Linked DNA regions of Homo sapiens. The protein of the gene in region 1 purifies or fractionates together with the protein of each later gene. This does not show direct contact. Each region holds a gene or a part of one and is shown in the gene's direction. Other genes may lie near its edges. The genes, in order: PARVG, AARSD1, LIMS1 and RSU1.

Region 1 (7,024 bases):
CTCCACTTGACCTCAGCAGAGGGCATCTGGCTGGCAGAGGCTGAGGCCAGGGGCTGTCAGGCCATATCCCTGAGCCATGCGTGGCCGTCCGTTCATTGCCACGGGGAGCCTTCACGCCCTGAGCAAAACCAATGCTCTCACCATGAGGGTACTGTCTCCTGTGAGATTACCGATGGCTGTGACAGTGCCCTGTTCTCTTTCTAGGAACCTTGCCGGGTTTCCCCACCCTCAGATGTTCTGTCTAGCATGCGGCCTGCCTGTGCTGCGGTTAATACCCAGGAATCCACGACTTCCCTCTCCAGACAGACTCTGAGCATCACAATAGGGGGCCCCACCAGCTCTTTGCTTCTCATGACCGCCCCCACCCCACCCCAGCCTCGGGTCCCTCATGCATAGGGGCTTTGTGTGTGAGGGCTTGCCTCTGACTCGCCCCAAGAGAATAAGCCAAGTTTGGCCACACCCAGTCAGAGTCATTTCTATTTTTTTTTTTTTTTTTTTTTTTTTTTGAGATGGCGTCTTGCTCTATTGCTCAGGCTGGAATGCAGTGGTACAATCTTGGCTCACTGCAACTTCTGCCTCTCCAGCTCAAGTGATCCTCCCACCTCAGCCTCCCAAGTAGCTGGGACTACAGATTTGAGACACTGTGCCTGGCTAATTTTTTGTATTTTTGGCAGAGATGGGGTTTCACCGTGTTGCCCAGGCTGGTCTTGAACTCCTGAGCTCAAGCCATCCACCTGTCTTAGTCTCCTAAAGTGCTGGGATTACAGGCGTGAGCCACCACACCCGGCTTTCTACTGTTTTTTAAAACCATTGATTATAATTCCCTACCAAGCAGTTGTGTGGCTTGGTCTATACTGCCAACATAAATCAGAAGTGACTTCATTGATTCACTCCTTCACCATTCATTTGTTCATAGTCACATGCTCATTGATACTGCCCTCCTCCCACTGTGAGACTCTGGGGATGCCTTGGGGAGTGAGGCAGACACATCCCCAACCTCAAGACTCCTGGGGAAGAAAGACAATTAAGCCAGAGGCTGTCCTGAGGAGGGATGATACAGAGCAAACGGATCACTGGGGCTTCTTTGGGCCCCAGAGTTTTCTGGATTATTTAATTTCTTCCCCCTTTATTTTTCTTAGAGCACCAAAAGTGGTCTGAAGTCAGAGAAGTTGGTGGAACAGCTCACTGAATACAGGTGAGGGAAGGATGAGGGCCCATGGGTGGGGCTGGGGCTCACAGCGGTGGATGGGGGCAGGGTGGGGGCCAGGGCAGATCTGCCTGACCTTTGTGGGAAGGGCCCTCACATTCTGTGGCTTTCTCTCAGACCCGAAAATGCTGCGCTGACCTCTCAATCCCACGGCAGCACACAGGACCCCTTTCTAGCCTCCAACCAGGTCCCTGCCTGGCCCCTCCCAGCCACCCTGCTTTGTTTTCTAGGGTGGGGGCCCCTGGGTTTGGGGTACAGGGCCCAGTGAATCTGTCTCTCTAGTGTGAGCAGGATGTTCCTCTTTCCTTGCAAAGCTGTAAGAGTTAGAGGCCCCTGCATGGCCAGGGGCTGGCCGTCTTGCTGCCTGCCCACTTTAGGGTGTGACTGTCTTGTTCCCCGCCCACTTTGGGGGTGTGGCTGTCTTACTCCCCACCCACTGGGGGGTGTGGCCATCCTGCTCCCTGCCCACTGGGGCATGGCCATCCTGTTCCCTGCCCTCTGGGGAGTGGCCATCCTACCTCCTGCCCACTGGGCATGGCCACCTGCTCCCCACCTACTGGGGTTGACCATCCTGCTCCCTGCCCACTGGGGCTGGCCATACTGCTCCCTGCCCACCGGGGGTGTGGCCATCCTGCTCCCTGCCCACTGGGGCTGGCCATACTGTTCCCCACCCACTAGGGCTGGCCATCTTGCTCCCCGCCCACTGGGAGCATGGCTGTCCTGCTCCCCATGGAGCAGAACAGGTGGGGCCTGGAGAGGGATGGGCCCAGGGGCTGCACAGGCTGCCAACAGGTCCACCGTTGCTGGCTTCTGTGTGGCGCTAACTCACGATCTCTCACAGGGATGCAGCCAAGATGCTGGCCAGGTGGGGCTGCCATCCTCTGAAGGCTTGGCTGGGGCTGGAGCTGTGTGGACAGCACATGGTGTCTGTCTCTCCTGGCAGCCTTGGCCTCTGTGCTGAGCCCAGGTCTCTGTCACAGGCTGCTGGGCTCTGCCCCGTGGGCCCCAGCTTTCTTCTGGAGGGCTGTGGTTAGAGAGACTTGGCCTGCCCTGGACCTACAGAACTTCTCTTCTATGGGGTAGAGGTGGATCTAAAAACGTGACCAAAAAAAAAAGAAGAAGAAAAATTGTTCAAAAACAATAAAAATGGAGTGAAAGAAGCCAGACCCAAAAGAGGACACGCAGTATGGTTTCATTTCCATGAACTTCCAGGACAGGCAAAACCAACAGATGGCAAGAGAAATCGCAGCTGTGGTCAGCGTAGGGAGGGAGAGGATGGAAGGGAGAACACGGGGGGTGCTGGGAGGTTCTGCAGCATGTAAGTGGGGGTGATCACACAGGTGTGTATGTGTAAAACGCACAAGCTGTGAGCTTACGATTTGTGCACTTTATGATGTGTGTGATGTATCTCCCTCAGAACAGAACACGAACAACAAAACCAGCAAAGTCCAAATGTTTCTAGGTGTGGAAGCCTCAGGGAAGGGCATGAACCTGTTTCTGCCCTTTGCTTCCCACAAAGACCTTCTCTGCTATCTGCCCTACCTACAAAGCTGCCAGGAAAACCACAAGCATGCCAGTTTCTTTGCAACCTTGCCAGCACTGAGGCTTGTCATATTGAGAAATTGTAGGTTTGCGGGGTGTTTTTTTTTTAACCATTTGTTTGCTTTTTCCACCCACTGCACAGCACAGACAAGGACGAGCCTCCAAGTGAGTACTTTCATCATTTTTGGAAATCTGTTCCTATCTGATGCGTGTTAATGCAGACAAGTCTTAATGCAGGGTTAATTGCTGAGCATTCTCTCATTTCCCTGTCACTTGCTGTTTGTATCTCAAGCCTCATTCTTATTCATTTGTCCCTCTTTCTGTCTGTCCATCCATGGAGCTGGCTGCTCCTTCTCATGATACTGTTCCTGTGGGGAGAGAGATTTATAATTCACATGGGCAGTGATGGTGGAGTCTGTTAAATGTGTGGGCTCTGGAGTCAGTGGCCTGGGTTCAAACACCAGTGTTCCCACTCATTAGCCACTTAAGTTTGGGCAAGTATCTTAACTTGTCCGTGCCTCAGTTTCCTCATCTATAAAAGGGCACTCACCTTTTAAACTGGCAGTGAGGGTTAAAGGAGATAATGTATGAGTGTGTTCAGCATGTGGGCAGTGCTCAATAGTGAGTGGGCAATAATGTGGCTTCTGCTCTTCTGACAGAGCTGTTCACCAATCAGTTGATTGTTCTAGTTGTTACTTCTTTCATGCATCCATTCCTTTGTCACTGGTCTGGCCAGCTCTTCCCCTTCCCATCCATTAATCTATTTATCCATCTATTGATCCATCCTTTCTTCCATTCATCTATCTACTTACCCACTTATCCACCCACCCACCTATCCATCCATCCATTCATACACCCATGCATCCATCAACCCATTCTTCCATTCATCTATCCACCCACCCATCCATTTATCCATCCCTCCATCCATCCATTCATGCCTCCATTCATCCATCCACCTACCCATCCATCACCTGTCCATCCATCCATCCACCTATCCATCCATCAACCTATCCATCCATCCATCCATCCATCCACCCACCCACCTATCCACGCATTCATCCATCCATCCATCCCTCCATCCATCCATTCATGCTTCCATTCATCCATCCGCCTACCCATCCATCATCTATCCATCCATCCATCCATACACCCACCTATCCATATATTCATCCATCCATCCATCCATCTATCCATCCATCCACCCACACACCTATCCATCCATCCATTCATCTATCCACCTACCCACCTATTCATCCACCCATTCATCTATCTACCCATCCAACCACCTATGTATTCACCCATATCCATCCATCCTAACACTATTTTTCCTCCCTATACCCTCCCCACTTAGACACATAGCTATGTGGGCAGGGATGCTATGAGGGGCACCTTCCCTGCAGAGGTAGAGATAATAACCTGCCAGGAGCTTCTGAGAATGGGGGCTGAGGAAGGCGGAGTTTGGGGAGAAAGGAGAAAGGAGGGGCAAGGAGGGCTGGCTGAGGATCTGTGTATGTAGCAGGAGGGGCAGCCTGAGGACATGAGGGGTTGCCCAGGGAGCAGTATTTTGGGCAGGGGGCAGCATGAGAAGTGGGTGTCAGAGGGTGAAGAAAGGACACAGAGCAGGGGCATTTTAACGTGCATGATGCTATTTGGTGCTACTTTTCCCCCTTCACTAACAAGGGAACTGAAACAGAGAGAGGTGCTGTGACTTGCTTAGAGTCACACAGCTGCTGAGTGGCAGAAGCCACAGCAAACTCAGGCCAGTCTGTGTATTTGGTGCCCAAGGACCAGTGTCCCCATGGGAGGTATGTTAGCTGCAAATAGCAGGAATCCAGCTAGTGCACAAAGGGCATTAGCCTGAGGACATGGGCACCCGAGGCTGGACCCCAGGGCCTGAGCCGCTGTTCCCAGACCCCAAGGGAGTGACTGAGTTGCTGAAGAGCTGGCCTTTTGCAGGCAGCAGGTTCAGACACTCTTGGGGGCGGGGGGAGGCAGCAGGGAGCAGTCCTCACTCAGCCAATTTAAAACCAAGGGGAGGAGACTCATGGACCCTGATCACCCACCTGTGGCAGCTCCCGTGGCCCTGGGGAGTGGAGTAGGGCCCTGGGAGGAGGGAGTGCCAGCTGGCAGATAAAGGGATGCAGCTGTGCAGATGTAGTAACAGGTGTCAGCTGCAGGAAGAGTGGCTGTTTATGAAGTCCTACTGTGTGCCCAGTCACTGTGCCATGGGGCCATGTGTGTTATCTGCTATGGAATTCCATCTCTGCAACAACCCCAGCTAGGGAGGCACAGAGAGAGACGGTGACTCCCCTGGGGCCACACGGCCAGGAGAGCAGTGACTCAAATCCAGGTCTGTTTTATTTGAGAACCATGATGTAAAACGACAGCTCCCTCTGGACTGGTTATTCTAAGAAACTTTTGTGAAAAAAAAAATTCCCTGTTTGGCACAAAGATAATAGCATCGTAATGAGGTGTTTATTGGATCTGTGTCTGCAGAGGACGTCTTTGATGAATTATTTAAGCTGGCTCCGGAGAAAGTGAACGCAGTGAAAGAGGTAGGAGAGATCAAAGCTCTCAGCGGCTCTCAGGCTGCCCACCCCACCCACTGCCCACCTGCGCTGTAGGAGGGAATCACGGGTCCTCCCATCACACCTGCTGTGTGCTAGGCCCTTGTTCTTCCCTGGTTAGGCCATCGTGAACTTTGTCAACCAGAAGCTGGACCGCCTGGGCCTGTCTGTGCAGAATCTGGACACCCAGGTAGGGACTGAGCTGCGGCGTCCCCAGGCAGGGCAGGGCCACTGGCCGTAGGAAGGAAAGAGGGTTCTGCAGGCCCTGGGAACCTGCTGTGTGGTGGGGGTTGCATCACCTCTTGGAGCCTTAGGGTCCCCCTCCCCGGTGGGACTGTTGCTGGCAGGCAGCAGTGGTCACCAGGGACATGGTGGGATCCCGGGGGTGGAGGTGTGGGAACACTTCACAAAGCTGGAGTCACCTCGGCTGTCACTGCTTCTCATTGTTATAATTTTATTTTATAATTAATCTCAGACTAGCTGATGCCAAGACTTGAAGCATATGAGTCTTCCCTGCGTGGTTGTGTTCGCCCAAACAGAATTTATTAGATTTGTCCCATGTGCCAGGCGTAGGTGACAGCGCAGCCCAGCCGTCTGCAGGCTCCATGTCTCTCACAAGCACCCTGAGGAGCCCAGCCCCTCCCCCGGCTGACTTAAGTCGAATTTTCCCAGGAGCAGGAGCAGAATCTCAGGGGGTCAGCACCCACCATGGGCTGTGGCTTTCCACAGTGAAGCTGTGTCCCTGTAGGCTTCCCACACTGCAGGGGAGCAGGGGGTGCACAGTAGCAGACCGGCTGCCAGCCCGGGGCCTGCAGAGTGGGCATGGAGTCTGCTGGATGCCAGTGGCCTGAATGGGACATGACGTAGGCATCTGGCCACCTGGGTTCTGCTGGGTGCTGGGGTCTGGGGTGGGGAGGGAGTCTGGTCCCAGATGGACCAGTTGGCTCATGAAGATCGTAGCCAGAGCTGCTGACCTCTCAGAGAGACTCTGGATGGGCATTGGCTGGGGAGGGAGGGGTTAATGTACTCCCATGCCTAGTAGCTAAAACCAATAAAGCCCTCACTATGTGCCAGTCCCAGGGCAAAATGCTTTCCATGTTAACTCATTGAATCCTCTCCATAATCCTCTGAAGTGGGAACTGTACTACCCCACTTACAGAGGAGGATGTTAAGGCACAGAGAGGTTAATTAACTTGTCTAAAGTCACACAGTGATAAGTAGTGGACCTGGGATTTGAACCCAGGCAGCTGGGGCCAGAGTTAGTGCTTATAACCACCTCACATGGTGGCCACGTGAGAAGTTTGTGTGTGATATGGTGTGGCAGCATGGCAGGGTGGAAGTATCACGCTCTGTAGCCAGACAGACACACATTTCCCTCCTGCCTCCACCACTTATGGGCCCTGGGGTCTGCTGAGAACCCTCCACATTTGCTGTGTGACCTTGGGTGAGTTACTGGACTTCTCTGAACCTCAGGCTCTTCTTCTTATAAAGTGGGTACAAGATAGCAACTTGGTAGAATTGTGAGTGATACATGAGCTGGTGAGCCCCACGTGTTTGGTATATTACCTGGCACGCTGCCGGCATGAAATAAGTGAGAGATTTGTAGTTTTATTATATTTTATGTGGGTATAAACAGGATGATTTCTGAGATTTACATTCTACCTGTTCTATCTGTATCTCTCCCTTGGTAAAATAATGGGTTTCAGAG
Region 2 (7,780 bases), on another chromosome or scaffold:
GTCTTTTTTCCCCCCCGCCCCCAGGATGATTCTGACAGTGCTGATGATGCAACAAGTAATTAACTTTCTGTGACGCAAAGCTGGGAAGGCAGCTGTGGCTATTTTCCAGTTGTTCTAGAAAGCTAGCGCCTAGGCCTTTGTCAGCGCTTTGGCTGTGCACCAAGTTCTTCTGAGATCTCTGAACTTTCCTAGAAGCTCTTTATTAAGGGTCGTCCTTCAAGCTTGTCTTCCTCCTAGGCACTTGACTATGGCTCCACATCAGATGCAGGGTCGGGGAGGGGTAGACTGGTAGGGCTTCTGATTTCTTACTGATTGGTTTCTAATCTCTGTGTTTAGGCCACTTGATTATTTGAGTATGTGTGTGTATGTGGCAAAACAAAAGCCAAAGAAGAATGCAGATTATAGAAATCTCTACTATGTGTGCATATGGGGCAAAGCAAAAAGCCAAAGAAGAAACAGATTATAATAAATCTCTAGGAACTGTTCTCTGTCTGTTTCCTTCTTGTACTTATTCCTCCTGGTGGCAAGCCTCTTCTCCCTCTAGTAACCAAGCTGGGGTGCTTCCTCTTGCCCAGATTTGTGCTCTGATTTCTTACAGCTAATTCTGTCATCTCTAGAACCAGCCACTTCAGCTTCCTGCACACTCTAGAAATCTCTTTATACTTTTTTTTTTTTTTTCCGAGATGGAGTCTTGCTCTGTCGCCCAGGCTGGAGTGCAGTGGTGCAGTCTCTGTTCACTGCAACCTCCACCTTCTGGGTTCAAGCAATTCTCCTGCCTCAGCCTCCCAAGTAGATGGGACTACAGATGTGCACCACCAGGCCCAGCTAATTTTTGTATTTTTAGCAGAGATGGGGTTTCACCATGTTGGCCAGGCTGGTCTCGAACTCCTGACCTCAAGTAATCCACCCACCTCAGCCTCCCAAAGTGCTAGGATTACATGTATGAGCCACCACACCCGGCCCTCTTTATACTTTTAAAACTGATTGTTACTCTAGTTAATGTCTATGTTTATTTGTCCAACAGCTATTCTATTTGTCCATAAACTTTTTTGAGTGCCTAATATGTACAGTTGACTGTAACTTAAACAAAATAAATGCATTGCCTATAGACTTTGCTCTTGAACTCATGGTAAACTATTAGGATTTACTTTAAAAGTAAACTTTATTTATTTATTTATGTTTGAGATAGAGTCTTGCTTTGTTGCCCAGGCTGGAATACAGTGGTACATTCATTATTCATGGAGCCCTGACTTCCTGGGCTCAAGTAATCCTCCTGCCTCAGCCTCCTGGGTAGCTAGGACTACACTACAGCTGACTAAGTTAAAAAATATTTTTGTAGGCTAGGTGCGGTGGCTTATGCTTGTAATCCCAACACTTTGGGAGGCTGAGGTGGGTGGATCACCTGAGGTCAGGAGTTCGAGACCAGCCTGACCAACATGGAGAAACCCTGTCTCCACTAAAAATACAAAATTAGTCAGGCGTGGTGGCTCATGCCTGTAATCCCAGCTGCTTCAGAGGCTGAGGCAGGAGAATGGCTTGAATCCAGGAGGTGGAGGTTGCTGTGAGCCGAGATCACACCATTGCACTCCAGCCAGGGCAACAAGAGCGAAACTCCGTCTCGCTCTATAAAATATATATATATTATATATTAATTTTATATATAAAATATATATTATATATATTAATTTTATATATTATATATAAATTATATATTTAAAATATATAATATATAAATTATATATGATACATATTATATATATTTTATATATTATATATCTACATATATAAATACATATATATTTATATATTATATATTATATTATATATTATATAATATATATTTTATATATTATATTATATATTATATAATATATATTTTATATATTATATTATATATTATATAATATATATTTTATATATTATATTATATATTATATAATATATATTTTATATATTATATTATATATTATATAATATATATTTTATATATTATATTATATATTATATAATATATATTTTATATATTATATTATATATTATATAATATATATTTTATATATTATATTATATATTATATAATATATATTTTATATATATGTAAAGACCTTGTCTTTAGGACAAACTATTTTTTTGTAAAGATTTGCTTGTTGCCCAGGCTGCTCTCAAACTCCTGGCCTTAAGCCTCCTTCCTCGGCCTCCCAAAGTGCTGGGATTACAGGCCTGAGCCACCATCCCTGGCCCCATACTGCATTATAAATACTATAATACCTATAATTTATTTTATACTATGTAGTTCTAAGGTATAATTATATAACATACAAAACAATATATAACATGGAACATAAACATATAGTATATATTACTTACATGCAGTATGTTAAAACTTAATTAGCAGATGTGTTGTGTGTGTCTGTGTGTGTACACAACTGGAATCATACCATCCGCATCTTGCATTGTGCCCTTTTTCATTTAATATATATTGGAGATCTTTACAAGTCAGAACATATAGATCTAACTCATTTTTTTCATGGCTATATGGTATTCCATTGAATGTATTTTTCATAATTTCACAGGTTCTTTATTGAGGGACACGTAGGTCGTTAGTCTTTTACCATATTCTTTTTTTTTGAGACGAAGTCTCGCTCTTGTCCCCCAGGCTGGAATGCGACGGCGTGGTCTCAGCTCACTGCAACCTCCGCATCCCGGGTTCAAGCGATTCTCTTGCCTCGGCTCCCCTAGTAGCTGGGATTACAGGCGCCTGCCACCAGGCCCAGCTAATTTTTGTATTTTTAGTAGAGACGGGGTTTTACCACGTTGGCCAGGCTGGTCTAGAACTCCTGACCTCAGGTGATCCACCTGCCTCGGCCTCCCAAAGTGCCGGGATTACAGGCATGAGCCACCGCGTCCGGCAGTCTTTTACCATTTGCAAACAATATTGCAATCAACATTTAAAAATGTGGATCTTTACATATTTTTGCCAGGATATCTGTAGGGTACATTTCTAGAAGTAGAATTGCTAGGTCAAGGAGTAGATAAAATACATTTAAACATTTTGATAGCTGTTACCAAGTTGCTCTTTGATGAAATTGTACCAATTCTCACTCCTACGAACAATGAGAGTGTTCCATTCTCTAAATCGTTTCAGATATTTGACAAGATAAAAATTAGCACCTGGTTTAATTTGCTTTTTTTTTTTTTTTTTTTTTTTTTTTTTTTGAGACGAAGTCTCGCTTTGTCAGCCAGGCTGGAGTGCAGTATCGCGATCTCAGTTCACGGCAACCTCCGCCTGCCAGGTTCAAGCGATTCTCCTGCTTCAGCCTCCTTAGAAGCTGGGATGTAATCCCAGCCTGTAGGTGCCCGCCACCACACCGAGCTAATTTTTGTATTTTTAGTAGACACAGGGTTTTGCCATGTTGGCCAGGCTGGTATCGAACTTCTGGCCTCAGCTGATCCAGGCACCTCGGCCTCCCAAACTGCTGGGATTACAGATGTGAGCCACTGTGTCTGGCCCAAACTATTTTAATGTAATGTAATGTAATTTTCTTGAGACGTAGTCTCGCTGGGTTACCCAGGCTGGAGTGCAGTGGTACGATTTCGGCTCACTGCAACCTCCTCCTCTCGGGTTAAAGTGATTCTCCTGCCTCAGCCTCCCGTGTAGCTGGGATTATATAGGCGTGTGCCACCACGCCTGGCTAATGTTTTTGTGTTTTTAGTAGAAACAGGGTTTCACCATGTTGGCCACGCTGGCCAAATTGTTCTTCTTTTTTTTTTTTTTTTTTTTTTTTGAGACGGAGTCTCGCTCTGTCGCCCAGGCTGGAGTGCAATGGTGCGATCTCGGCTCACTGCAAGCTCCGCCTCCCAGGTTCACGCCATTCTCCTGCCTCAGCCTCCGGAGTAGCTGGGACTACAGGCGTCCGCCACCACGCCCGGCTAATTTTTTGTATTTTTAGTAGAGACGGGATTTCACCGCGTTAGTCAGGATGGTCTCGATATCCTGACCTCGTGATCCGCCCGCCTCGGCCTCCCAAAGTGCTGGGATTACAGGCGTGAGTCACCGCGCTCGGCCTTTTTTTTTTTTTTTTTTTTTTTTTTTAATTGAGACGGAGTCTCGCTCTGTCGCCCAGGCTGGAGTGCAGTGGTGCAATCTCTGCTCACTGCAACCCCGCCTCCCGGGTTCCAGCGATTCTCCTGCCTCAGCCTCCCGGGTAGCTGGGATTACAGGCGCCCGCCACCACGCCCGGCTAATTTTTGTATTTTTAGTAGAGACGGAGTTTCGCTATGTTGGCCAGGCTGGTCTCGAACTCCTGGCCTGAGGTGATCCACCCGCCTCGACCTCCCAAAATGCTGGGATTACAGGCGTGAGCCACCTCCCCCAGCTCCTTGCTTTCTATTTCTACTGGGCAGTGCTGCTCAGTAACCATGCCAGTCCCGTCCCCGCCTCTATGCGCTGGGATTCCGCAGCCAGAATACTTACATCCCTGGGGCCCCAAGGGGCTCACTAAACCACGTGCCTTGTCCAGGTCGCGTTTTTTTGTTTTTGTTTGTTTGTTTTTTTCCTCCTGGTCTTGTCCTTTGTAAAGCCTTAGAACAGTCGTTAAACAACCCAGCAAATATGCAATTCGCGTTTTCAGTAAATTTATCCAAACCGCATTCCATTCCTTACCCTCCTGCTTCTGCGCAGACAAGCGCCCTTGATGACGTTTGTCCCACGTCGCTCTCCGTTCGCTCCCAGGCTTCTCTGCGCGTGCGCCTCCTCACACGCCTGCAGGTATGGCGTTCTGGTGTCAGCGTGACAGTTATGCCCGAGAGGTACGGCGTCACGGCGAGGCACTTGAGACTGCCGGGCCGGCAAGGCGGTTTGGGGAAGAGGGCGCCACGTGTAGGGAGTGCCAACATGGCATTCTGTCCTGGTGTGGAGAGGGCTAGGGCTAGGGCTGGGGTCGGGGCTTATTCTCTCATTCCTCTCTGTTCAGTTCACCACCACCGTGGTCTCCTGCTGTCCCGCGGAGCTGCAGACTGAAGGGAGCAACGGCAAGAAAGAAGTGCTGAGCGGTTTCCAAGTGGTGCTGGAAGACACAGTGCTTTTCCCTGAGGGCGGGGGACAGGTACCAAAACGATCTCTTCCCAGGAAGCCCCCAGTTTCTTTGTGCTCAGGCCGAAATGCTCTCCTGCCCCTTTTTTCTCAGCCATAATGAATTCAGATGAGCTTTAGTTTAATTCATTTTGTTATTCATTTAATGAGTATTTATCAGCAATTGCTTATCTAGACATAACATATGCTAGATATTATTCCAGGCTGTAAGGATAACCGGTGAACAACACAGTGCCTTTATATACGTGGAATGTTTATTGAAGACAACTGTGTGTGCTAGGTATAATAAGTAATAAACAAAAACCAAGTAAAGGGAAAGAGAGTGATGGGATGCTTGTCTAGATGAAGGGTAAGTTATTTCAGTAGAGACCTAAACGAAGTGAGGGGGTGAGTCTTTGCAATTATCTAGTGGTGCTGGGGGGCAGAGGGAGTATTCAGGCAGGTAGAATAGCAGGTGCAAAGGCCCCAAGGAAGGAATTAGCTTCGGGTTTTAGGGACTGAAAAAGATGTTCCTGAAGGAGTTCAGGTGAGATAGACGGGTTACAGTAGTACAGCAGAGAGCATATTTATCAGTGCTGTGATGAGGACTAGGTACAACATGAGCGCAAGTGAGGTACATTGTGAAGATGGAAGAGGAGGATAATAACACCAAAGGTGGGCATTATGAGAAAGGCTTTTCTTTCTTTTCTTTTCTTTCTTTCTTTCTTTTTTTTTTTGAGACAGAATCTCTCGCTGTCATCAGGCTGAAGTGCAGTGGCATGATCTCAGCTCTGCAACCTCCGCCTCCTGGGTTCAAGTGATTCTCCTGTCTCAGCCTCCCAAGTAGCCTGACCAACATGATGAAACCTTGTCTCTACTAAAAATATAAAAATTAACCAGGCATACTGGCAGGCCCCTGTAGTCCCAGCTACTCGGGAGGCTGAGGCATGAGAATCACTTGAACCGGGAGGCTGAAGTTGCAGTGAGCCAAGATTGTGCCACTGCACTTCAGCGTGGGGGACAGAACAAGACTCCGTCTCAAAAGAAAAAAAAAAGGTGTATTAAGGTGTGTGGGCAGCGAACCATGCAGGTTATTTTCTTTCTTTTTTATTTTTAAGAGACAGGATCTTGCTATGTCACCCAGGCTGGAGTGCAGTGGCCTGATCTAGCTCACTGCAGCCTCGAACTCCCAGGCTCAAGCAATCCTCCTGTTTTAGCCTCTCCAGTAGTGGGGACTACAGGCGCACAACCAACATGCTTGGCTGCTTTTTTGTAGAGATGAGGTCTCACTTTATTGCCCAGGCTGATCTTGAGCTCCTGGCCTCAAACAGTCCTCCCACCTTGGCCTCCCAAAGGCTGGGCCTACAGGTGTGAGCCACTGCCCTGGCCTCCACTCAGGTTCTTAAGCAAATAAGTGACATGAGAGAACATGTTCAGTAGACTTGGTATTGAGAGAGTTCCAATTTCATATCAGTCATTATTATGGTGATTTTCCCAGTATGAAGATTTCCCTGATCTGCTGAAGGAAAACCTGTGACCTCAAGTATCCATAGAAGGTCTCATTTTAGACAGCATTTCTTTCAGGAAGTCTTTTTTTGATTCCCCAAGACTGTTAGGTCTCTTTCCTTTGAGGTTCTCTAGCGTCATATACTTTTTCATATTATGGCATGTTATAGGTCATATTGCAATTGTCTGTTTTCCAGCCTCTGTTCTCTAGACTCTTAAGTTCCATGAGGTACCATATCTTGTTTACATTGTATTCTTGGGCTGGCACAGTCTTTTGTAAGCAGTTGGCACTTGAAATGTTTTAAAATGAATGAACTTTTTTTTTTTTTTTTTTTGAGATGGTGTCTTGCTCTGTTGCCAGGCTGGAGCGCAGCGGCGTGATCTCGGCTTACTGCAATCTCCGTCTGCCAGGTTCAAGCAATTCCCCTGCCTCAGTCTCCCGAGTAGCTAGGACTACAGGTGTGCACCACCATGCCCAGTTAATTTTTTGTATTTTAGTAGAGACGGGGTTTCACCATGTTGGCCAGGATGGTCTTGATCTCCTGACCTTGTGATCCGCCCACCTCGGCCTTCCAAAGTACTGGGATTACAGGTGTGAGCCACTGTACCTGGCCCTTTTTTTTTTTTAAATGAGACAGTGTCTCACTCTGTCACCCAGGCTGGAGTGTAGTGGAGCAATCATAGCACACTGCAGTCTCAACCTTTTGGGCTCAAGTGATTCTCCCACCTCAGCCTCCCAAGTAGCAGGGAGTATCATGGCCAGCTAATTTTTTATTTTTCATAGAGGTGGGGTCTCACTGTGTTGTCCAGTCTGATCTCAAGCGATCCTCCTGCCTTGGTCTCCCAAAGTGGTGGGATTACAGGAATAAGCTACCATGCCCAGCCTAAATGAACATTTTTGAATCTAATTCTAATACCACTGCAAGAGGATGGAGTGGAGGGAGGGAGGAAAAATCAGATCATTTTAGAGACTACAAAAGAATCTAGACTAAGGCAAGGAGAGTTGAGGATTAAGATTCTTCGGGTTTTACTAAAATTTTTGTTGCTGTAGTTACAATCTCTTTAATTCTGTTATTCTGAAGATCACAACACATAGGTGTTTAGAATGAAAAGGACTGAGAATCCTCTCATGGAACAAAGTGGACTCATTTCACTTGGCATTGCTTTCTCCCTCTCCCTTAGGGAGCCCAGATTCTGGGTCTC
Region 3 (7,024 bases), on another chromosome or scaffold:
TTTCATCAGATTCATTAAAGGCAGGGTATTTGAGCCAGAAAACAATTCAGCACAGTCAGAGGCCAGGTCACCAGTCCCTGTAGGTGTACTGTTCACTCTAGCCTCTACTTATTCCATATGTCTTTCCTGTACCAACATGTAGATGTATGGATGGTGCAAAAGAGTATCTGCTTTTTAAAATCCCAGTAGAGTTATAAATTCTTAGAGTAGAACTCTTAGTTTAGAAACATCTTTCCTGTATATCTTCATCAAATAATTATATTTCTCCTGTGATTGTTTCGTGTTTGTAAGTTGGTGGTACCCTCTCTTTCAGTTTGAAGGAAGAAAGTACTGTGAACATGACTTTCAGATGCTCTTTGCCCCTTGCTGTCATCAGTGTGGTAAGTTTTACTGCTAAATGTCAAGTAAAAAGTAAGTTTCCGGCCAGGCGCGGTGGCTCACACCTGTAATCCTAGCACTTTGGGAGGCGGAGGGAGGAGGATCACCTGAGGTCAGGAATTCGAGACCAGCCTGGCCAACGTAGGGAAACCCCGTCTCTACTAAAAATACAAAAATTAACTGGGCATGGTGGCAGGTGCCAGTAATCCCAGTTATTCAAGAGGCTGAGGCAGGAGAATCGCTCGAACCCAGGGGGCAGAGGTTGCAGTGAGCTGAGATTGCACCACTTCACTCCAGCCTGGGCAACAGCAAAACTCCATCTTGCGGGGAAAAAAAGTAAGTTTCCACATTACTTCAGTCATTTCACACTGGTGAAGTATCGATGGTAAAAATGGTTTTTAGTGCTCATTATGAATAACTGTTGGATACTTCATCACTCCTCTTCCCTATTGTTAACATAGAACAAGCTGGAGGAGTATCAAAACCTAGAGATCATTGATTTTTAAGGACATTTAAGGTAGAGGTATTTTGGGATGAACTAGGACTCCTATCGGGTGGCGTTTGGGAGTGTTCTTTTCCTGTGTTAACACAACCTTTACCAACTTGCTTTTGGTTTTGCCCAGAAAGAGGCAGGGAAGAAATCAGTGAGGTGCTTCAGAAGCTTAGGGATGCTTAAACATTGCTTGCACGGCGCATAAGTGATGGACTTGCTTGCACGTTGGCCACTTCACTGGTTGCTAATACCTCTGCCGGGTTTCCAGAGATTGAAGAAACTGGGTAGAATGTTCTAAAGGTTTAATGAAAGAATAAATTAAGTATGGGTTATAAGAAACTGTGCTGTAGATTTCAGTTGTCTATGTTGACAATGACCAGAAATAACCAAAAGGCATTCAAGAGAGCCTAGTAGCTCGTTTGGACAGGAAAGCTAGATTCAGAGATGACACAAAACAGCCCAAAAATGTGGCTGTTGAATCAAAAACAAAAATTCAGATGAAATAAAACTTTTTTGCTAATGTGCTTACTCTGGTAGACACATAAAAAGTTCTTCTACTGGCCACGTGTGGTGGCTCACGCCTATAATCCTAGCACTTTGGGAGGCCAAGACGGGCGGATCACCTGAGGTCGGGAATTCGACCAACATGGAGAAACCCCGTCTCTACTGAAAATACAAAATAGCCGGGCGTGGTGGCAGGAGCCTGTAATCCCAGCTACTTGGGAGGCTGAGGCAGGAGAATCGCTTGAACCCGGGAGGCAGAGGTTGCAGTGAGTCGAGATGGTGCCATTGCACTCCAGCCTGGACAACAAGAGCGAAACTGTCTCAAAAAAAAAAAAAAAAAAAAAAAGTTCCTCTATTGAGAAAGGCTTCAACGGTTTTTTTCCTCATTGTTTTTCCTTAATTACTCTCTCAGTAAATAAAGTGCCATGCCTGTTACTTAGGATGTTACTTAGTAACATCCTTTGTGTGTTGCTTTCCCACAGGTGAATTCATCATTGGCCGAGTTATCAAAGCCATGAATAACAGCTGGCATCCGGAGTGCTTCCGCTGTGACCTCTGCCAGGAAGTTCTGGCAGATATCGGGTTTGTCAAGAATGCTGGGAGGTAGGTGGATTTTCATCCTTGTCAGATGTGGGTGGACAATGTGACTGTGACAAGATCATGTGTATTCTCCATGTGGGATGTAAGGCAGTTCTGTAGGACACTGAATTGAGGGCATGGGAACTCAGACACTGCAGTGTGTTGACTGAGTGCTGCTGCTGGGAGTGGACCCTTGTGTTGCTGTTCACAGGGCATAACTGCTCCATGCATGGCTGAACTACCAATGGGGGATGTACCTAGATGGAGTTTCTTAAAAATCAGTCATATTAGGGTTGGAACACATTTTTCATGTGGCTTGATTCTGCCCCGTGAAGCACAGGAGTGATTTTTTTAAGAAATGGTTTGTTTAATTTCTTTTCAGAGATAAGGGAAGCATATTTCTTTTTAACCATTAGAAAGAACCTAAAATTTTAAATTTAAGTTTTGACTCTGTTTAGACACCTGTGTCGCCCCTGTCATAATCGTGAGAAAGCCAGAGGCCTTGGGAAATACATCTGCCAGAAATGCCATGCTATCATCGATGAGCAGCCTCTGATATTCAAGAACGACCCCTACCATCCAGACCATTTCAACTGCGCCAACTGCGGGTACTGGAATTGTTTCTTTTTTATTACACAAGCAGTGGGAATGAAAGATTACATTTATCTATATTTCTGTTACTCTAGCAAACCAAATTGTTTTTCTCCAATTTTTAGTCTAGAAAATTTTAAACCTATAGACGAGTCAAGAGAATGATATAATGAAACCTGTATACACTTAATTTCGTTTCACCAGTTGACATTTTGCCATGCTTGTGTGTATACAGTCCACATTCTCGTTTCACCCTCCTATGTATGTGTGCACGTGTGCCTGTATACGCATACCTCTAAAATTTCTCATGAGTCCCAGTATGCGTCTCCTGAGAATAAGAGCATTTTCCTATGGAACCACGATACTTTTTGTAAATTTTTTTTTGCCTTGAGACAGGGTCTCTCTCGCTCTATTGCCCAGGCTGAAGTGCAGTGGGCAATCAGAGCTCACTGCAGCCTCACCCTCCTGGGCTCAAGCAGTCCTCCCACTTCAGCCTCCAGAGTAGCTGAGACCACAGGCACACACCACCCTTCCTGACTAATTTTTTTAAATTTTTTGTAGAGATGGAGCCTTGCTGCGTTGCCCAGGCTGGTCTCAAACTCCTGGGCTCAAGCAATCTACTCATCTCAGCCTTCCAAAGTGCTGGGACTATAGGCATGAGCCACTGCACCTGGCCAGAACCACAATACTCTTATTATGCCTAAGAAAATTAGCAATAATCTTATAATATCAACTATCAGTCCATATTAAAAATATTCCCAGTAGCCCCAGAAATATTTGTCATCACTATGTTTTTCCAATCGAAGATCTAAAAACAAAAAAAGGTCTTATCTCTGTACATGCATAACTTTTACAGTTGTAATAATTAGGTATTATCTTAAAAGATGTTGTTACATTTATTTAATTTGGCTTGGTTTATATCTAAAAGAAATATATTTAATTTTTTGTCTTCAATAAGTTATGATAAATTGTTGGGCTATGAATTTTTCTCAGTTTGCTGCCTAGTATAAAAATTTAGTGGATAAAGATTCTTGGCCGGGCGTGGTGGCTCACACCTGTAATCCCAGCACTTTGGGAGGCCGAGGCGGGCAGATCACGAGGTCAGGAGATCAAGACCATCCTGGCTAACACGGTGAAACCCCGTCTCTACTAAAAAATACAAAAAAAATTAGCCGGGCACGGTGGCGGGTGCCTATAGTCCCAGCTACTTGGAAGGCTGAGGCAGGAGAATGGCAGGAACCCGGAAGGCGGAGGTTGCAGTGAGCTGAGATCGCACCACTGCACTCGAACCTGGGAGACAGAGCGTGACTCCATCTCAAAAAATAAAAATAAAAAAATATTCTTTACTGTAGTTAATGTGAACTTACTTGCTAAATTATAGTAGGGATGGAGAAGAAACAGTAAGCCAAATACTAAGAAAACAGTTTGGGCCAGGTGCAGTGGCACACGCCTGTAATCCCAGCACTTTGGGAGGCCGAGGCGGGTGGATCACGAGGTCAGGAGATCGAGACCATCCTGGCTAACATGGTGAAACCCCATCTCTACTAAGAATAAAAAAATTAGCCAGGCGTGGTGGTGGGTGCCTGTAGTCCCAGCTACTCGGGAGGCTGAGGCAGGAGAATGGCATGAACCTGGGAGGTGGAGCTTGCAGTGAGTGTGGATCGCGCCACTGCACTCCAGCCTGGGCAGCAAAGCAAGACTCGTCTCAAAAAAAAAAAAAAAAAAAGAGAAAGAAAGAAAACAGTTTGGTTGTATAAGTTCAGCCATCTCATCTTTTGTGATTGAATTATCAGTTTGTGCCTTATCTCGTTTTCTTGCCTGTCCTTCCTCTTGGGGATTCACCTCTGTCCACTTTTCATTAGCATCTCTCCTAGAGAATTACATAAAAGGGATGAAATTCAAACAAGTCCGTTTGACTAATTGGGACCATCTCTGACCAAATGTTTATTGATGCAGGAGACTGAAAATAATATTTAATTTGAGTATTTGGAGAAGGAAAATTCTGGGCATTTTGTTGTTTATGAAAATAAACCTATTAACCTATAACTATTTTCAACAGCTTGTGACAATTTAAATAATTGTTAGTAAATGGAACTAGTCTCCCAACTTCTCAGTTTGCTTGGAAAGGTCGTGTGTTAGTCTATTTTATGCGCCTGTAACAGAATACCACAAACTGGGTAATTTGTAACCAACAGAAGTTTATTTGGCTCATGGTTCTGGAGGCTGGGAAGTCCAAGATCAAGGGGCTGGCATCTGGTGAGGACCTTCTTCTGCATCATTACATAGCAGAGGGCATCACATGGTGGGGGAAGAGGAGGGGGGAAGGAAGAGAAGGAAGGAGGCTGAACTCGTCCTTTTATAAGGAACCCACCCCCTCAGTAACAGCGTTAATCCATCTGTGAGGGCAGAGCCTTCATGATGTAATCACCCCTTAGAGGTCCTACCTCTCAACACCTCAGAATTGGGGATCATGAACTTTGGGGACACAGTCACACCATAGCAGATAGTATTACTGAGTCTACCCTCAGCACTGTGATTATTCCCTGTAGCTTTTAGAGGAAGACAAATGGACTAAAATGTAATGTGATAATATAAGAAGGAAATTATGAATATGACTGGTGTGGTGGTATGTATCTGACCTAGTCTTGCATCTTATCCTTTTAAGATACAGATGTTTTGGTAGGAGTCTGAAACCTGTTCAGGCCTATTAATTCAGGTTATTCTGATCACCTCTAAAGGGGAAAAAAGAAATTTGCAGGGATTGTCATAGTAATGTCTTTAAAAACCTTCTAAAAAGTGTGCTAGCCCCATTGGTTGGCCACTTTTCTCTCTTAGTATTAAGCTGTGTGTCTTTCTCACGGACAGGAAGGAGCTGACTGCCGATGCACGGGAGCTGAAAGGGGAGCTATACTGCCTCCCATGCCATGATAAAATGGGGGTCCCCATCTGTGGTGCTTGCCGACGGCCCATCGAAGGGCGCGTGGTGAACGCTATGGGCAAGCAGTGGCATGTGGAGGTGAGTTCTAAATGGCAAAGGGTAACCAATCCTTTCAAATCTCCATGATTAAGGGGTAACCAATACTTTCAGATCTCCCATGATTCAGGGGTAACCAGTACTTTCAAATCTTCATGATTCAGGTGTCCTGGCAAGATTAGGAGACTCTAAAGATTAAACGTGGACATTTTAAAGACAATTGACTTTGCTGACAGCTAAGAATATATAATGTACACTGCTTTTGTGAATGTCTCAGTAATGATACAGGATGTGTACTTTTGCTCCTAAAGCCTTCTTGAAGCAGGAAGTGCCATGGTCTGTATCCAGCAGCAGCTCCTCCTTTATAGGTGCTACTGAGATGCTCACCTCTATTCTCTTTTTGGGCTATTATAATAGGCTATGTCTTAAAGTAACCTTCAAAGACAGACACCTGAATTACAACTGCAGAAGTATTATATTATGGGGCCACCTATGGCCAAATGAAATGACTGTCTCAAACTTTCCTTCATCTTCTCTGAAAATAGGTTAACTCTGGTATTTACTTTATTAGATATAAAATATGGCAATTCAAAAATGACCTATAGCAATTTTTTTTCAGCATTTTGTTTGTGCCAAGTGTGAGAAACCCTTTCTTGGACATCGCCATTATGAGAGGAAAGGCCTGGCATATTGTGAAACTCACTATAACCAGGTATTGACCTTAGTCACTGGATGCTAGATAGACTTTTATGAACCTAAGCTTATCAGTAGTTTAGCTACAAGGAAATCTCTTGGAAGATGTACATTGTTCAGTAGAGATTTGTTTTTAACTTTTTATTTGGGAAATAATTTCAGACTCAGAAGCTAACTATAAAATATACAAAGAATACCTGTATGTCTTTCATTCAAGTCCACAGTTTGCTTTATCATTTCCCAAGCTCAGTCTTCCTGTGTAAAACACATAGTTACGTAAATATTATATACAAGTACGATGGCTGTTTTGCCAATAAGTTCATCATACTCCTTTATCCCTAAATACTTCAGTGTATATTTCCCAAGAATATGGGACTCTCTAACATAATTGTAGTTATCAATATTGATACCGTACTCTAACCATTTATTCCAGTTTTGTCACTTGAGTCAATATCCTCACAGCATTTTTTCCACTCCCAGACTGGACCCAGCCTCTGGCTGTGATGTTTCTTTAGCCTTCTTAAATCTGGAACGTTTCCAGAGTCTTTTAAAATTTTTGATGACATTGACATTTTGGAGGGATGCAGAGGGCCCCTAACCCCTTTTTAATAGACTACTTTCCACTTGGGTTCACCTGGTGCTTCTCTGTGCTTAGATGAGGTTATACACAGCAGGTTGTGGCCTCATACAGTGGCAGGGCATCTTCTCAGAACCTTGCCCCTGGAGCATTTTATACCTCTCCTGCCCTGGTGATCTCCCAGGCATGGTGCTGGCTGATAACATCACTGTGAATTACAATTTCCTTCCCTCCT
Region 4 (7,024 bases), on another chromosome or scaffold:
GCTAGCAGTGTCAGAGCGGGGCCCTGAGCATGGAATTCCTATGTGTCAAAATGTGGATGGATGGAGATGGATGTTAGCACCTGCTGGAGGGAGGGGGGACAGCCAGCATGTTCCATCCTTCATTCTGCAGAGAGAGAACCCACCATGTCACCATCCACCTGGACTGGTGTCCGGAGAGGTGGCCAGAAGTCTCTGCAGTTCCTTGGCCGCTTTGTAGCTGGGGCTGTTGCTAGCAATTCTTCTGAAGTTTTAGCATTTGTTTAAGGACTTCTTTCTGCCCGCCAGGGTGGTGTGCCTACCACTGTTACTTACTGCTGTCAGCGGCACATGGGACTCTGCTGTGTTCCTTAAATGTTGTGGGTATTGGTTTGTCACTCAAAGGAAAAAGGAATCTGCAATTAAGTAGATTCTTGCCACCAGGAGGTGGAGGGGCTCCAGGCTTGCTCTGGGCTGAAGATTGAGTGGGAGCTCTCTCTCAGGTGAGATGCCTCTTCCCTCTAAGCCTGTCTAACCGTGGATTTCCTCTACCTAATATTGCAAAAGTGTATTTATTTGCAGAGAAAAATGTTAAGGAATCAGCAGTTTTCAAAAAGAGATAACCGAAAGCAGCGTTTAAAGACAGAAGCACCTAGTGTGGTCTTCTCTGCTGTCCTTCCTTTGACTTGCAATTCTTCTCAGAATCCTTGTATCAGAGCCCAAGGGTCTGGAGCAGCTTTGGCCTCCGTGCGGTATGGGGTGTTTCCAGACACATGTCGCCTTCATCAGTCACTTCTGAAGTCTTGGCTCCTCACCCTCTCTTAGGCTGTTTTTTCATCTCAACATAGCATTAATGACAAGCTCCATCTTACCTGTATTGCAAGGTAGTTTTAGTGAACAAGCGAAGTCCTTGCCATAATGTGCTTCACAAATTGTGACTTCATGGAGAATGTTTGTTCTTGCTGTCGTGGCAGTAGATAGTCGTGGAGGTAGTTTTGCTGGGTGTAGTCTGTCTGGGAAGTTTTCTGCCTGACAGGGGGAACCCGCGTTTCCCTTTTGGTTGCCCCCTCTGCTGTCAGCTGTTTCTGGTGAGGCCCTCTTGGTAGGGCTGGATGGAGCTGAATGTGTTAGGAGAAGGATCGATGGCTAGAATGATTTTTATTGTCACAGTCCCTTCCACCTTTCAGTATCTGTCAACTTTTATTAAATTTTTTTTTTAAAAATTGGCTTTTAAGTATGCTCAAAGGGAACTGCGTTAAGAAAAATAAGGGGCTTGAAGAAAGGATAAAAGATAGTGTAGAAAAAAATTCCCTTAGACTTCACTGGAGACACGCCCACACACACACACGCACACCCACACATACCCACACGCACCACACCCACAGCACACACACATACCGTGTACAAACACACCCACACACACACCACACACACACTGCGTACACACACACCACCACACCCCCAAACACACCCTATACACACACCACACCACACTCATACCTACCCCACACCACACACATACCCGCCCCCACACAGCCCCCCACGTCCTTCACACACCACACCCCACCCCTCACACACCACACGAAACACCCAGATACACATACACATAACATCACACACAATACCACACACACACAGCACACACCCCACACACACACTCACACACAATTGACCCTTGAGCAACACATGGGTTGCGGGAGCAACACAATGACTCATGCAGTCAAAAATCCACACATTACTTTTGACTCCGAAAAATCTTAATTCCTAATAGCCTACAGTTGGCTGGAAGCCTTACCAAAACTAGAAATAGTTGATGAACACATATTTTGTATGTTACATGTATTCTATTCTGCATTCTTACAATAAAGTAAGCTAGAGAAAAGAAAATGTTATTAAGAAAGTCGTAAGGAAAAGAAAGTGCATTTACTGTGCTTTAAGTGGAAGTGGATCATCTTAAAGGTCTTCGTCCTCTTCATGTTGAGTGGGCTGAGGAGGAAGCGGAGGGTTGGTTTTGCGGTCTCAGGGGTGGCAGAGGTAGAAGAAAAATATCCATGTCTCATTGGACCCAGGAAGTTCAAACCCATGTTGCTCAAGGGTCAATTGTATGATTTAAAAATTTTTTAGGTTGTGATAAAATGCACACAAAATGTACCGTCTTTGTAGTAGACAGTTCAGTGGTGTTAAGCGTATTCACATTGTTGTTCAGCCAATCCCCAGAATTTTCTCATCTTGCAAACCTGAATCCTACGCCCATTAAACCACACCTCTCCATTCCCCCTCCCTCCAGCCCCTGGCCATCACCATTCTAATTGAAGATAATTTTCAGTGTTAGCAGTTGTAGAACAAAAACATGATTTTCCCTCCAAAAAAGGAATAAATGGAATGAAATCAAGCAAAAGCCTGAAAACTACAAAGCTTCATGTGTATATTTTGAGATATTATCACTACGTTCATAGGGAAGTTGTTCTTTACAAGGAAAGATATTTTGTAATGGTTTGAGTTTTTGTGTAAAGCAGTGATTAAGTTTCACCGTTGGAGGAAAATAACAGCTAAGAAATTTTCAAGTGTTTCAAGATCATGTAAGCTGTCTGACTGAAATTATTAGCCTAAATAGGACAACATACCACACCTTCTCACTTATATGTGGAATGTAAAAAAGTAAACCTCATCGAAACAGGGAATAAAATGGTTACCACAGGCTGGAGGGAGAGGGGAATTGCAGAGATGTTAGCCAAAGGACATGAAATTTTAGTTAGGAGAAATAAGTTCAAGAGATGGATTGTACATCATGGTGACTGCAGTTAATAACAATATGTGGTATAATTGAAAATTGCTAAGAGAGTGAATTTTAAGCAGTCTCACCACAAAAGACAAAAAAAATGACAAGCATATGAGGCAGCGCGTGTGTTAAATAGTATGATTTAAACCATTCCATGATGTAGTATACATACATCAGAAGTATCATGTTGTACACCATAAGTATGTACAATCTTTGTCATTGTAAATATTAAATAAATGCTTTTTTTAATTAAAAAAAAAAAAGGATGGGCATGGGGGCTCACGCCTGTAATCCCAGCATTCTGGGAGGCCTAGGTGAGAGGATTGCTTGAGCTTAGGAGTTTGAGACCAGCCTGAGCAACATGGCAAAACCCCATCTCTGCAAAAAATACAAACATTAGCAGGGCGTGGTGGCGTGCATCTGTGGTCCCAGTTACTTGGGAGGCTGAAGTGGAAGGATCGCTTGAGCCTGGGGAGGTTGAGGCTGCAGTGAGCTGAGATCATGCCTCTGCACTAAAACCTAGGCAACAGAGTAAGACCCTGTCTCAAAAAAATAAAAAATAAAAATAAAGTATAAAGTGACTCTAGGATCATGGCACTGTCTTACACTTTCAGCGTCTGAAACAGAGGTGCCCTTGATAGTCTGTATGAATGTGTCTTTGGTGTCATGACATAGATTTTTGTCCCCCTGCAACAGCATGAACAGGCTGAACACTTTGCCACGAGGCTTCGGCTCCCTGCCAGCTCTTGAGGTTCTGGACTTGACGTACAACAACTTGAGCGAAAATTCTCTTCCTGGAAACTTCTTCTACCTGAGTAAGAAACTTTCAATTCTATAAATCTCCTCAACCTTGTACTTTGCGTTCTGAGAGGGAAATTTATTTGCCAGGACCCAAACTCCAAGAGAAATTATTGGACAGAGATAATTTTTTCTTTAGAGACTCCTTTTGAATATTCCTTCGTAGCTCAGCAGTATGTGCATTTGATAGATCGTTATGTGACACCATTGGGCTGAAGTGGACTTAGTAATGTCATATTAACATTCTGAGAGAGATTATATACCTAAATGAGATCAAGCCTCACATTTAGCTAAGAGACTTGACTTTCTTTTTAAATAGCATGCCAAAAAAAAAAAAAAAAGTATCTTCCTATGTTGCTATTAATTCTTTGTAGGATATTTGCCCAGGATATTCCAACCAATTATTTATTAAAAATATTTATTAATAAACCAGTAACACAATTTTAAAATTTTCCAGCCAGTATTCCTATTTTGAGCCTTTTAAAAAGTACTCTTATTGACCTATTTATCCAGTACACAGGCATTAAGAAATTATTGGCCACAGGTGAACACACTTTATTCTTTCATATGCAAACAAATTTCTTGCTGGAGATGCTTTTGAAAATTAAAAAATGATTTCTTCTGGGAACTCATGCACTATTTTGGACAAGGTTTGCTTCCCTTAAATCAGTGTTCTATTTCTTCAAATAGTAACTTGTGTGGCATTCAGAAAATCTGAATTTTCAGAGCTGATCTCTAAAATTTTATTTTTTACCTTACGTACATTACCTTTCTATGACTTTCTCAAGCACATGAAACCAACTATAAAATATTTTCTTGGGCAGTGGAGCAACTATTTTTATTATGTTATATTAACATGCAGTTCTCGGGAGTATGAGCTACAAAGATCACTTGAGGCTAGGAGTTCAAGACCAGCCTGGGCAACATAGAGAGACCCTGTCTCTAGAAATAAAAATTTAAAAAGTAGCCAGGCATAGTAGCATGAGCCTGTGATCTTAGCTACTTGGGAGGCTGAGGTAGAAAGAGTGCTTGAGGCCAGGAGTTTGAGGCTGCAGTGACCCACTGCACTCCAGCCTAGGTGACAGAGCGAGACTCTGTCTCTAAAAAATAAATACGGGTAAACAAAACATGTATCTAATTATACTCAGCTTTTTTGGTTGAAGATAAACAGATGCTTTAGAATTTTAGCCTTCAGTAGGTTGGAATCGTATTATCATTGTGTAATAATTATGAACAAATTTCTGACTACTGATATTCTCCTTAAGTTAGGATTTACTCTGTTAACTTCATGTCATTATTTTAGCCTCTTTGTCTTCATTTACTTTTGTCCTTAAGGCTGTAGAAACACGTAGTAATAATTAGTCAGATTATGGAACTGATGAGCTGTGGTTATAGCCTCCATCACCAGAAAGCCTTCCATTAATTTGTAACACAGTGCTATTTACATAGGAAAAGGTCTATTTTAACAGAGCTGTATTCTCTTGAAAGAACCCTTTTGCCCTAGGTATCCATAAAAGTGGCACAGTAGTGTTCTTTGTTTTACTTTGGATGCAAATGGAGAAATAAATGTGAATCAAAAGTAATCTATGAGAAGTATAGCAATCTTTTCTGAAAATGTGCTGAAACTCTGTGCCCCAAAATGCTGGCGCCCACAGTTGTTAATTGCGTCATTCCTCTTGGATATAGATGTTTTCCTGGACACACCAGCTACACAATAAGCCAGTAAATCTAAGTTTGACCTGCTTGTTATTATTGGGAGCCCTAGGTATGTCAAAGGCTTTTCACCAAGCCAGGGTTATTAATCAAAGCTGACTCCCTCGTATTGATCAGACCTCAAATGGTTGTGTTCCATGCCACCCTGTTTATATATTGCTGTTTAATTTGCAGCCACCCTGCGTGCACTCTATCTAAGTGACAACGATTTTGAAATCCTGCCGCCAGATATTGGGAAGCTCACAAAGTTGCAGATAGTAAGTAATTTATCTAAATTCTTAGAAAATCAATTCACTGCTGCAGCCTTGTAGGGGTAGAATCAAGTCAATTTGAGCAGGAGTAAGGTTTGTTTTGTGGGAATAAACCACTACTCCTGATAGTGTTTCTTGATTATCCGCCGGCACTTGTAAATACATGGAAAGGATTGAGCTTTAGTAGAAGAGAGGACATAGAGGATGAGAGTTTCTGTGGAGCACCTTTTAATGTGTAAATATGTTGACAACTTGTTTTCTTCTGTTTAGCTCAGCCTTAGGGATAACGACCTGATCTCGCTGCCTAAGGAAATCGGGGAGCTTACCCAGCTTAAAGAGCTCCACATTCAGGGGAACCGCCTCACCGTTCTGCCCCCAGAACTAGGTAAGGTTGCTGATGAATGAACTTAGTTCTGGGTTTCATGAATAACAATTATCCTAATGTAGCAATTCTGAACAACCTCTGTCCTCTTCTTGGCAACTACTCTCCACCTAGGCACACGATGCTGATCATTTGAGAACCATTTGTCATTGACCAGAGTTAGCTGTTACAGGTTTGACCTTCCCGGATCCTGTGTTCTGCAGCTGTAGTGTCCCCTGTCTTAGAAACTGCTGATGAAAGATGACCCCGCTCAGCTCCCTGCGTGATGTAGTGGGAAAAGCATGGGATTAGTAGTAAGAGCCTTATCCCTGGCTCCTCATTGACTAGCTGGGTAAGCTTTCTGGGTCTTGGTTGGTTATTAATAACTTTAAGTATCACTCTTACTTTTTAACCCCTTAAATTTTTATTGACCTGGAAAAACTTTTACCAAATAGTTAAAGTAGTTGTTATGGCTACTTGAACATGTTGATACCTCTGCGGGTCGTGAATTTGCCTCTCTCCTGATCCCATCTCTAGTAGGAATTGTTAAATATGTTCTTGCTGGGAATGGATCCTACTCCTGGCCGCTGAATCCTAATCCTGTTTCTCTGCCAGGTCGTTCCTATTTCCAGGGTGGGTTTATGTCCCCCGCCAGAAATAACCTCCAAGCCAGTAATTCTGTTACTGCTTCGTTCCACTGCAAAAGGTTCACGAGTTCCCTTATCTTTTCTTGTGCAGACCCTCCATAGCCTCTCATTTCTTCAGTCCTTTGAACCACATTGTTTTCTCAAACTGCGATTATTTGCTTTTCTACTCCAAAATACCATCATTTTTAAGAAACACATTGAGGAAGCAGTTCTTTAAACAAGTTTGGCAGTTTGAAGAGGCCATTTGTTAGAAATTAGAATGCAATCACCAGGAGGGCAGGGACATTTTTGTATTTGTTCCCTCGGGTACAGTAGGTGCTCAGAAAACACTGACTGAATGAATTAATGAAGCAAGGACCTTGGATGACAGGACGTTAGGAAGGTTATGAGCAGGCTCATGTGGCTAATGGTTACGCATAGGAAGACTGAGACACAGAGCACGCCTATCAGCACCTTGAGTTCTGTTGGCAGCCATATTAGTCTAAAGGGAAGGCAGTCA

The links.
Region 2: the proteins of PARVG (region 1) and AARSD1 purify together in Homo sapiens (affinity purification with mass spectrometry, with the first as the bait; 3 studies listed by BioGRID). This does not show direct contact.
Region 3: the proteins of PARVG (region 1) and LIMS1 purify together in Homo sapiens (affinity purification with mass spectrometry; 4 studies listed by BioGRID and IntAct, with this or other methods). This does not show direct contact.
Region 4: the proteins of PARVG (region 1) and RSU1 purify together in Homo sapiens (affinity purification with mass spectrometry; 4 studies listed by BioGRID and IntAct, with this or other methods). This does not show direct contact.

The regions. Positions count from the first base shown.
Region 1 is NC_000022.11:44,190,910-44,197,933, forward strand, and holds part of PARVG (gamma-parvin), read left to right. Parts: intron 1-1,139; coding exon 1,140-1,195; intron 1,196-2,891; coding exon 2,892-2,914; intron 2,915-5,245; coding exon 5,246-5,304; intron 5,305-5,437; coding exon 5,438-5,506; intron 5,507-7,024. UniProt on the Homo sapiens protein: Plays a role with ILK in promoting the cell adhesion and spreading of leukocytes.
Region 2 is NC_000017.11:42,961,431-42,969,210, reverse strand, and holds the start of AARSD1 (alanyl-tRNA editing protein Aarsd1), read left to right. Parts: upstream 1-4,756; 5' UTR 4,757-4,770; coding exon 4,771-4,809; intron 4,810-4,973; coding exon 4,974-5,105; intron 5,106-7,780. Other genes in the region: putative protein PTGES3L, read left to right, coding at 25-63; PTGES3L-AARSD1 protein, read left to right, coding at 4,974-5,105. UniProt on the Homo sapiens protein: Functions in trans to edit the amino acid moiety from incorrectly charged tRNA(Ala).
Region 3 is NC_000002.12:108,670,468-108,677,491, forward strand, and holds part of LIMS1 (LIM and senescent cell antigen-like-containing domain protein 1), read left to right. Parts: intron 1-313; coding exon 314-380; intron 381-1,857; coding exon 1,858-1,978; intron 1,979-2,412; coding exon 2,413-2,562; intron 2,563-5,410; coding exon 5,411-5,561; intron 5,562-6,138; coding exon 6,139-6,231; intron 6,232-6,327; exon of another isoform or gene 6,328-6,463; intron 6,464-6,846; exon of another isoform or gene 6,847-7,024. UniProt on the Homo sapiens protein: Within the IPP (ILK-PINCH-PARVIN) complex, binds to F-actin, promoting F-actin bundling, a process required to generate force for actin cytoskeleton reorganization and subsequent dynamic cell adhesion events such as cell spreading and migration.
Region 4 is NC_000010.11:16,751,417-16,758,440, reverse strand, and holds part of RSU1 (ras suppressor protein 1), read left to right. Parts: intron 1-3,451; coding exon 3,452-3,570; intron 3,571-5,440; coding exon 5,441-5,523; intron 5,524-5,787; coding exon 5,788-5,902; intron 5,903-7,024. UniProt on the Homo sapiens protein: Potentially plays a role in the Ras signal transduction pathway. Capable of suppressing v-Ras transformation in vitro.